Linked DNA regions of Homo sapiens: region 2 is linked to region 1. Evidence: fine-mapped QTL for protein levels in blood plasma. A gene starts in region 1. The other region holds a variant in brackets. All regions are shown on one strand. Distances are between the middles of the regions.

Region 1 (5,386 bases):
AGAAATAAGCCTCAGAACCAAGGTCTCTCTCTGCCTTTCCACTCTCCTGCCCTCCCTCAGTCTCTCTTTTTCTTTCCTAAAGCACTGAGAGTGACTCTCTCTGGAATTTCCTTATCTGATTAAGGAAGCTTCTTTCCAAAAGAAATGCAATTGTCTTAAGATCTACTTCCTGAGAATCTCATCAAATAACCATGAAAAATTAACCATCAGAAAAGAGACTAAAAGCTGTCACCATATCCACACTGACTTTTCATCTATTCTTCTGAGGACAGCTCCAAGAGATTGGCTGGGAGACTTTATCTGCATAAAAACACAACCTTCATTCCACCCCTCACCTTTCCACCACCTCACCATAGCTCAGGGAAACGCTGTCCCAGGCCATGCTCTTTGAACCCATTCATTCACTTTAAAAATTATTTACTACCTCTCTAAAATTACCTGCAGCTCCCTACTTCTCTCTTCCCCAAAAAGAAGGCATTTAAGCTTCAACCACCTGGCCCTTCTTTGAATCTCATATTTGAGGGGCTCTCATATCCATATACATATTAATAAATTTGTAACTCTTTTTCTCCTATTAATCTATTGCCAATTGTTTCAATAAAATTGCAGAAAGGGCAGAGGAAAAGCTTTCTCTTCACTCCTACACAAAGTAAAAAGTAGTGTATCAGCTCATTGAATGTATTAATGTGTGACTTAGTTCTCCCTTTTTTGTCACGATGTTTAAAATTTTTTTTGTTGTTCTCCAAAAGCTATCTTTTTCCAGATATGCTATGGTACAACTGTTGAAAATGTATTTCCTCCTACAGTAAAACCAAGACAGCACAATCAAAGGCCAACCTTAAGGAGAAGGGTAGAAATGATTGAGAATTACTCATCTACCAGAGTGAATAATCTCTTACACTGTGTGATTTTTATGTCAACTTTAACTGAAATTTTATACATGCTTTGGATATAAATTAAGGGAAAATATAAAGTTTTATACATGAGTCAGTGTGCATTCCAGTCAAGGTAGAGATCAATATATTGCAGGTCAAGGGAAAGAAGTAAAGATCTAATCAGACAATCAGAGATGACTACCAATCTTCATGACCTATCTGCTGCCTCATTCTACACATTTTCAGTTCTGTATTGTTTCTTTTATAAAGCTAGAAAAATAGAAGGGCCACCTCTGCAGTAAAGTAAAAGTCAGTATTTTACACATAGATAAATCAGATTTTGAAGGAAACTCTTTGGGGTGATAAAAAAAGAATAACCACATGGATACCTGGATGCTACTAAGCCTCAGAGTTAAAAGGAAGACAGAGTGACATACATGGTGCTGAAAAGTTTTGAGCCTGGAAACAAGGTCATCCTGCAGTTTCACTAAGAAAACTTAATCTATAGGGCTGGTCTACCATTTGGTGACCATTTGGTGACCATTTGGTGTCTGTGTGTCAAAAATTGCTCAGATATTTCTAAACACTTCAGAATGCCATCAGAAGCTACAGCAAATTGCAGCTCTTTCTGAAACACACACAAAAAAAGAGGATCTGGCCTGAGTGTGATTTTTTAAGTGAGCAGTTAAGGTGATAATAAGGAAGAAGATATTTCTCATTTAATACATTCTAGAAAATAAAATGTCCCTATGGAATACAATAGCAACTTGAAACATAAATATGTGTAATTCTCATACAGATATATGCATTTTCTATATAGTACAATCAAAATTTAAATTACAGCATTCTGCAAATTATATAATTGACAATTTTTGATTATTACAAAAGGTTTTGTACAAGCACCAGCAGAATAATTTAGAAATTCATAAATTCTAAAAATTCTAAAACTCCAGAAATATGCACATTTTCCCAAGGATTTTATTTCAGTGTTATTTATTAATGCTACTGTGTTATAACAACCATTCATTTCTACAGTTTAAGGATACACAAACATTTATCAACTGAGCTTCTCCACCATCACTTTCAGCAATCATGCTGAAACAGAAACTCCAGAATTACTAAACGAAAATAGAAATATAAAACAGAAAAATGTCACACACATACTCAAAAGTAATAAATTAATGGTTACTTCAATTCCTCCTCAAGCTAGCCACAAGATTTCTCTAATAGCTATAATGAAGCATTCATGTTTAACTATTCAGGGACAAGAAAGTCTAAAATGCTTGAAAGTGCTCTACTTTAAATCAAGTTGACTTAACGGAATAAATCAGCATGCATCTTTCACCTTTTTTGGAAACTAAAGTGCACAAATATGCTGAATGCCATCCCAAATCCTGCCTAATACCCATTTAAGTAGATAGGAATTTAAGTAACAAATCTTTCCCCACCTCCTGGGAAGGAAAAATAAGTTACACAAACATCTCATCAAAACAAGGAAGGCAAGGCCCTCTCCTAAAAACTGGCAGTAAACACAGAAGACAGAAGAAGGCCTATACTTACACAGATGGCTAGAGCTCCTGCCCCCATTCTCTCAGAAAGCGTCTGGAAGAACTGAGGAAGACCAGACGAAAATATTAAAACGACAGCAAAATACTAAAATTCCATTCAGCACATATTCTTTGATGTGAAAAACAGCTCCCAATGCAAAGGCCCCAAGGTAAGCGAAGAGCAGCTTCTAACATTTTAGGAAGAGTGGTTTTGCTTCTCTTTCCGCTGAACCCACATGGCTGGAAGGACTGCCTGGAGTTGAAATTTGATCCACAGCCTCAGTGCTGGCAAGTAGAGGGAGTCACGTGACACGGGTCTTAAGTCGCTGACATCTTTTTTTCAAACCTGACTCCCTAGATCCTACACACAGGCTTCTTTGACTCCGAAAACTGCCAGTCACCTGGTGGCTTTCATTAATAGAACCAACAGTGCATAAAGTGAAAACACAGACTTGCTTCCCAGATTCCACACAGCTCTAAGCAAAATGTACGTATTCAGACTCAGGTTTAAAACTGCAGGCACATTATTCATTTTTTCTGAGGCAGTTTTCTCTTCTACTCTTCCTTAGAAACCAGCTAAATTCTACCAAAATTTTCTTCCTTCCATGCTACCCCATCAGAATTGTTTTAAATGAAAATGCTCTATTTTATGTAGCCGTTACTACTTCTAATTATGTATGAGTTGTCTTATAAAAATATACTGATGATAAACATAAACAACATACTTCTAGACAACCATAATTCTACATATGTGATTTGCAGTCTGAAAAATTAGCTAACTGACTTTTCAATAACTTTCTCTTCCACATGCTGTCACTAGAAAATTTGATAGATTTTAAAATTTACAAATATTTGAACTAATAGCTAAAATAGCCACTTCAGGTAAGCCAAAAGGAAACTATCCTATTTTTATTTTTGTTACCATTTTTTCTGTCAATTTGTTTTTCTTTTTTCTTTTGCTGTACCTATTGACCCATCCTCTAAGTTCTCTCCCCTCACCCCCAACCTCCCAACAGGCCCTGATGTGTGTTGTTTCCCCTTTGTGTCCATGTGTTCTCAATGTTCAACTCCCACTTATGAGTGAGAACATGTGGTGTCTGGTTTTCTGTTCCTGTGGTAGTTTGCTGAGGATGACGGCTTCTAGCTTCATACATGTCCATGCAAAAGACATGATCTTGTTCCTTATTATGGCTGCATAGTATTCCATGGTGTATATGTACCACATTTTCTTTATCCAGTCTATCATTGATGGGCATTTGAGTGGGTTCCATGTCTTTGCTATTGTAAACAGTGCTGCGATAAACATATGTGTGTATGTGTCTTTATAGCAGAATGATTTATACTCCTTTGGGTATATACCCAGTAATGGGACTGCTGGGTCAAATGGTATTTCTGGTTCTAGATCCTTGAGGAATCTCCATACTGTCTTCCACAATGGTTGAACTAATTACATTCCCACGGACAGTGTAAAAGCGTTCCTATTTCTCCACATCCTCTCTAGCATCTGTTGTTTCCTGACTTCTCAATAATTGCCATTCTAACTGGCTCGAGATAGTATCTCATTGTGGTTTTGATTTGCATTTCTCTGATGATCAGTGATGGTGAGCTTTTCTTCATAGGTTTGTTGGCTACATAAATGTCTTCTTTTGAGAAGTGTCTGTTCATATCCTTTGCCCACTTTTTGATGGGGTAGTTTGTCTTTTTCCTGTAAATTTGTTTAAGTTCCTTATGGATTCTGGATATGAGACCTTTGTCAGATGCATAGTTTGCAAATATTTTCTCCCATTCTGTAGGCTGCTTGTTCACTCTGATGATAGTTTCTTTTGCTGTGCAAAAGCTCTTTAGTTTAATTAGATCCCATTTGTCAATTTTGGCTTCTGTTGCCATTGCTTTTGGCATTTTTGTCTCTGCCCATGCCTATGCCCTGAATGGTATTGCCTAGGTTTTCTTCTAGGGTTTTTATAGTTTTGGGTTTTACATTTAAGTCTTTAATCCATCTTGAGATAATTTTTGTATAAGGTCTAAGGAAGGGGTCCAGTTTCAGTTTTTTGCATATAACTAGCCAGTTTTCCCAGGACCATTTACTGAATGGGAGATCATTTTCCCATTGCTTGTTTTTTGTCAGATTTGACGAAGATTAGATTGTTGTAGACATGTGGTGTTATTTCTGAGGTCTCCGTTCTGCTCCATTGGTCTGTATGTCTGTTTTGGTACCAGTACTGTGCTGTTTTGGTTACTGTAGCCTTGTAGTATAGTTTGAAGTCAGGTAGCATGATGCCTCCTGCTTTGTTCTTTTTGCTTAGGATTGTCTTGTCTATATGGGGTCTTCTTTGATTCTGGATGAAATTTAAAATAGTTTTTCTAATTCTGTGAAGAATGTCAATGGTAGTTTGATGGGAATAGCATTGAATCTATAGATTACTTTGGGCAGTAGGGCCATTTTCATGATCATGATTCTTCCTATCCACGAGGATAGAATGTTTTTCCATTTGTTTGTGTTCTCTCTTATATCCTTGAGCAGTGGTTTGTAGTTCTCCTTGAAGAGGTCCTTCACATCCCTTGATAGCTGTATACCTATGTATTTTATTCTCTTTGTAGCGATTGTGAATGGGAGTTCATTCATGATTTGCCTCTCTGCTTGCCTATTGTTGGTGTAAATGAATGCTTGTGATTTTTATACATTGATTTTGTATCCTGAGACCTTGCTGAAGTTCCTTATCAGTTCAAGAAGTTTTGGGGCTGAGATGATGGGGCTTCCTAAATATAAAATCAAGTCGTCTGCAAACAGAGATAACTTGATTTCTTCTCTTCCTATTTGAATACCCTTTATTTCTTTCTCTTGTTTGATTGCCTTGGCCAGAACTTCCAATACTATGTTGAATACAAGTGGTGAGAGAGGGCATCCTTGTCTTGTACCAGTTTTCAAAGGGAATGCTTCCAGCTTTTGCCCATTCAATATGATAT
Region 2 (5,386 bases), 150 kb before region 1:
TTAGGAGAGCCAACTGCATAATACATTGCATAATTTGACTATGCTTGGATAACACAATTATGCTTTATGCTTGTACCTGTTTTTTAAAACTACTGGTATGTAAATGCTAGAATATGATGAAAAGAAACAAGGCTGACTGTTAAGGGAAATTAGTAGAAATGTCTGACTGTTGTCTATGACTGTCTGAGTGTTTACAAATGCCTATAATTCTTTCTTCCTTATGCAAAAAACAGAAGTGACAGTATTTCTTTATTCTATTTTCCAGCCCTGTCTCTGTGAATTAATGGGCACAAGGCTGACAGTCAACTTTTTCCTATAAGACTCTGAAAGCATTTTTTCTAAACTTCTATTTGCAAATGTCACCTACATGAATTATATTTACTTTTTGTTTTATGACTTTAAACTTAGACAATACAGACAAAGTAAAGTTTAGCAGTCTGAGAATGAACTGGCAGATAAGAGATCTAGCTCAAGGAAGAAGTAGTATTTATTGATGAAAAGACAAGCCAGCACCCGTTCAGAGTTGCGTTCCCAGTGCCCCATCAGAATGGTACTGAAACAGCAGCTCCCACCCTTGCAGCAAGCAGCGAGCAAGGGGGCTGCAGAGCCACAGGACACAGGTAACACCTTCCTATAAGGCCCATGGTACTTAGATTTCTGGAGAAAAGTTAAATAATTCAACTAGTAACCTAAGCAAATAACTGGTGATAACTTAATGTATTCTTTTAAAATATATATTATGCAGTTAAGTATGAAATAGTAAGATAAAACATTTTCTAAATCTTTATAAAGCCATTTATATTTGTACATATGTATCTGAGAAAGTTGAAAATTTATGTCCACAGCAAAAATATCAACACAAATGCAAATAGTAGAATTATTCATAATAGCCTAAAAGTGGTGACAATCCAAATGCCCATTAATTGATGAATGGATAAACAAGACATGGTATAGTCACATAATAGAATATTCTTCGGCTATAAAAAGGAATAAAGTACTGACACCTGCTACAACATGAATGAACCTTGAAAACATGCTAAGTGAAATAATACAGACACAAAAGGATATATATTGTGTGATTCCACTTATATGAAATGTCCAGAATAGGCAAATACTTAGTGACAGAAAGTAGATTGGTTATTGCCAGGGGTTGGGAGGAGTGGGGAATGTGGAGTGACTGCTAATGGGTCTGATGTACATGAGGTTTTTTATTTTTTTTTTTTGAGATGGAGTCTCGCTCTGTTGCCAGGCTGGAGTGCAGTGGCGTGATCTTGGCTCACTGCAACCTCCGCCTCCCAGGTTCAAGCGATTCTCCTGTCTCAGCCTCTGGAGTAGCTGGGACTACAGGTGTGCACCACCATGCCCAGCTAATTTTTGTATTTTTAGTAGAGATGAGGTTTCTCCATGTTGGCCAGGATGGTCTCTATCTCTTGACCTTGTGATCCGCCCACCCTGGCCTCCCAAAGTGCTGGGATTACAGAAGTGAGCCACCGTACCCAGCTGAGGTTTCTTTTTAGGGTGATAAAAATATTCTGGAATTAGGTAATGGTGATGATTGCACAGTTTTGTGAACACACACAAAGCCATAGATTGTATACTTTATAAGAGTGAATTTCAATGGTATGTGAATTATATCTAAATTTTTTACAAAGCCATGTAAAGAACGTTCCCACATTCTCAAGGTAAGAGACCTCGGGTTTGTGTTCAAACTCTTCCTTTAGAAGAACTTTTTAGAAAAAGTTTGGAGGGGGATGTTGTGTTTCTAAGTGTTAAATTGTATGTAGGCATGAAAATTTATTCAACAAATATCAACTGAATCTTATTACTAGTTGGAATGGGTGTTATTCCAATGCTGGGCACTGGAGAACGAAGTGTCAAACTGGACATTAATAGATCACATACGGCATATTTATACTTATTTTAAACATTTGATCTACTTACATGAGACTTTTGACTGAACCAATTGCTTACTTTAATGACCTTTGCACAACACCTACTTGCTTAAACCAGCTGTGTCATGGTATCATGAGAACACCAGTTAAAAATACAATAAGGAAGGAAAAAAATACCTTATCATGGTTTCTTTTGCCTTACTATTCAACTACTAATGACATTTAAAAATAGGAAAGCACTCACTGTCCCCTCAGCCTTGCACACTACTTCCACAGCTCTTTTAAGGTTTGGTCCCTTGTTTCATTCAGGTCTTTGCTCAATTTCACTGGAGCAGGTTATCTTCCCAGGATGCCACCTGGGAAGGGATATTA[A/T]TCACTACCTCCCTCCTCTTCCACTTGTTTCTCTCTATCCCCTACCCTATTTTATGTTTCCCCATAGCCCTTAGAAATATCCAACCTTAAACTTACTGGTTTTAATTCTTTTTTTTTTTTTTGAGATGGAGTCTCGCTCTGTCACCAGGTTGGAGTGCAGTGGTGCCATCTCAGCTCACTGCAACTTCTGCCTCCTGGGTTCAAGCGATTCTCCTGCCTCAGCCTCCTGAGTAGCTGGGACTACAGGCACGCGTCACCATGCCCAGCTAATTTCTGTATTTTTAGTAGAGACGGGGTTTCACCACGTTGGCCAGGATGGTCTCAATCTCTTGACCTCGTGATCTGCCCGCCTCAGCCTCCCAAAGTGCTGGGATTACAGGCGTGAGCCACCACGCCCAGCTGCTTTTAATTCTTTATTGTCCATCTCACCCTACTCTGTGAGAGGACTTGGTCAGTCTTCTTCATAAATACATTATATCCACAGAGCCTACAACTAGGTTTGGCACATAGTAGGAGCTCAATTGTTGAGTGACTGAGTAAACTGAATGAATAAAATCCCCTTCCAAGCCCCTTGTGCATTCCTCCTGCTTTTAGTCCCTTCTTAATTCCCTTCTTAAATTCCCTTTATGATCCTTCGTTCTCTTGCTAATACCCTTAATTTCTTTCCTCCAGTCTCCAATCATTGCATTCACCTCACAAAAGTACAATGTTGGATGAATCCAGCTATATGCTTTCTCTGTGCTGAGAACGGAGCAGCTCAAAGTGGCTGGAAAAAGTTACAGAATTGGTTGATTGGTTTCACATTAAATTTATGACCAAAAACTTTGGATGGGCCCTCCCTCATGTACAGCAATTCTGCTATACTTCTTGCGTAACTTGATTTTCCACTTTCCAAGATGATATTTCTTGTCTTTCCCTCTCTTCTCAAACCCCTTTCTTTCCATTCTTGCTTAATACCTCTTTGGAAAAACAGAAACATCGGAGCAGAAGCTAGTCATTGCCACACCATCAAATCTACAAACCTAGCTGAAATCATTCAATCCTCTCTGCCTTCCCTGTTGTTGCAATGAGAGATAAGACTGGTTGTATCAAAGAGCAATTCCCTCCATATGCACAGTGGATCTCATCTCCTTTCATCTCCCCAAAGGCTGCTCCTTCAACGGTCTCCTGTCACTCCCTTCCCCACTGTGACCATTCCCATCAATCACAAGCATGCTCTGCAGTCATATCTTCTCATTTTTGTTTGTTTATTTTTAAAAGATACTTCCTTAATCCTACATCTCCCATTAGCTATGGTCCTACTTGCTTCCCTTCATAGCAAATTCCTTTAAAACAGCCATCTTCACTCACTTTCTCTACTTCCTCACCTCCAATTCATTCTTCAATGCCCTAAGATGTGGTCTTTGTCTCACTATTTCACAGAATCTGCCAAAACAGTCACAGCTCAGCCTCCGTCTTACTCTTGTTCTTAGTAACATTTAAAGAAGGTAACTATTCTTGAATTACTGTCTTCTCTTAGCTTCCATGACATCACTGGTAGGTGGCTTTTGATGGTTAAATTTAGGTGTCAACTTGACTAAATGAAGAGATGTCCAAAGAGTTGGCAAAACATTATTTCTGGGTATGTCTGTGAGGGTGTTCTGGAAGAGGCTGGTATTTGAATCAATGGGCTGAGTAAGGAAGATCCACTCTCACCAAATGTTGCAGGCACCATCCAATTGGCTGAGGACATATAGAGAACAAAAAGGCAGAGGAAAGGTGAATTTGATGTCTCTCCTAGAGCTGGGGCACCCATCTTCCCCTGCTCTTGGACATTAAAACTCCAGGTTCTGCAGCCTTTGGACTTTGGACTTGCACCATCAGCTTCCCAGCCACTCAAGACTTCGGATTTAGACTGAGCCATGCTACCAGCTTCCCTGATTCACCAGAGCTTGCAAACAGCATATTATAGAGCTCTTCAGCCTCCAAAATCATGTGAGCCAAACCCCATAATAAATCACCTCTCTCTTTACACACATACATACACACACACACACACACACACACACACACACACACCTCCTATTGGTTTTCTCTGGAAAACCTTGAACATATACAGGAGGAAAACATTTTCCTACTCACCCAGACCAACTCCATACAGTTGGCTGCTGCTCCTCCTCTATACAACAAAGTTACAGTTACATATCTATTGGTTATTGGTTTATTTTCTGAATCCTCTACTAAAGAGAAGTCTAAGCCTGGGCAACCTAGTGAGACTCTGTCTCTACAAAAACAACAAAATAAAATTAGGCAGGCATGGTGGCACATTCCTGTGGTCCTAGATACTCAGGAGGCTGAGGCAGGAGGACCTATTGAGCCCAAGAGGTCCAGCCTGCAGTGAGCTGTGATCACACCACTGCACTCCAGCCAGGGTGACAGAGCAAGACAGAAGAAAGAAGAAAGAAGAAGAAAGAAGGAAGAAGAGGAGGAGGAGGAGGAAGAAGAAGAAGAAGAAGTAGTAGAAGTAGTAGTAGAGAGAAGGAACAAGAGGAGGAGGAAGAAGAAGAAGAGGAGGAGGAGGAAGAGGAAGAGGAAGAAGAACAGGAGGAAGAGGAAGAGGAAGAAGAGGAGGAGGAGGAAGAAGAAGAGGAAGAAGTGGAGGAGGAAGAGGAAGAGGAAGAAGAACAGGAGGAAGAGGAAGAGGAAGAAGAGGAGGAGGAGGAAGAAGAAGAGGAAGAAGTGGAGGAGGAAGAGGAAGAGGAAGAAGAACAGGAGGAAGAGGAAGAGGAAGAAGAGGAGGAGGAAGAAGAAGAAGAGGAAGAAGAGGAGGAAGAAGAGAAGAGGAAGAAGAGGAGGAGGAGGAGGAAGACAAAGAAGAAGAAGTAGTAGAAGTAGTAGTAGAGGGAAGAGGGAAGAAGAGGAGGAGGAAGAAGAAGAAGAGGAGGAGGAGGAAGAGGAAGAAGAAGAGGAGGAAGAGGAAGAGGAAGAAGAGGAGGAGGAGGAAGAAGAGGAAGAAGAGGAGGAAGAGGAGGAGGAGGAAGAAGAAGAAAAAAGAAGAAGAAGGCGGCAAATAATACATGTCTCCTTTTACTACTGTGATCACAATTCCATAGAGAATTGCCTGGTATAGCAGGAACTCAATA

Direction of the effects. Positions count from the first base shown, and alleles are read on the strand shown. Strength reflects both the effect of a copy and how common the allele is.
For the plasma level of the protein whose gene starts at base 2,683 in region 1, A is the low allele of the variant in region 2 and T is the other (moderate association).

The links. PIP is the chance, under the fine-mapping model, that this variant and not a neighbour inherited with it causes the effect. The UK Biobank Pharma Proteomics Project read protein levels with antibody pairs (Olink). The fine-mapping took linkage between variants from a reference panel, not from the people measured, so its PIPs are less certain.
Region 2: its variant is fine-mapped to the plasma level of the FAM13A protein (UK Biobank, PIP above 0.99).

What each region holds. Positions count from the first base shown.
Region 1 is chr4:89,054,503-89,059,888 of GRCh38, forward strand. It overlaps FAM13A (family with sequence similarity 13 member A), which reads right to left and starts at 2,683. Exons shown (of 24, transcript NM_014883.4): 1 at 2,436-2,683. The coding sequence starts at 2,462. RefSeq lists an enhancer at 1,984-2,546.
Region 2 is chr4:88,908,283-88,913,668 of GRCh38, forward strand. The region is part of intron 5 of FAM13A (family with sequence similarity 13 member A); the gene reads right to left. Among named protein-coding and RNA genes, the nearest start is that of FAM13A, 150 kb to the right of the region's middle. The variant A/T (reference allele first, on the strand shown) is at 2,265.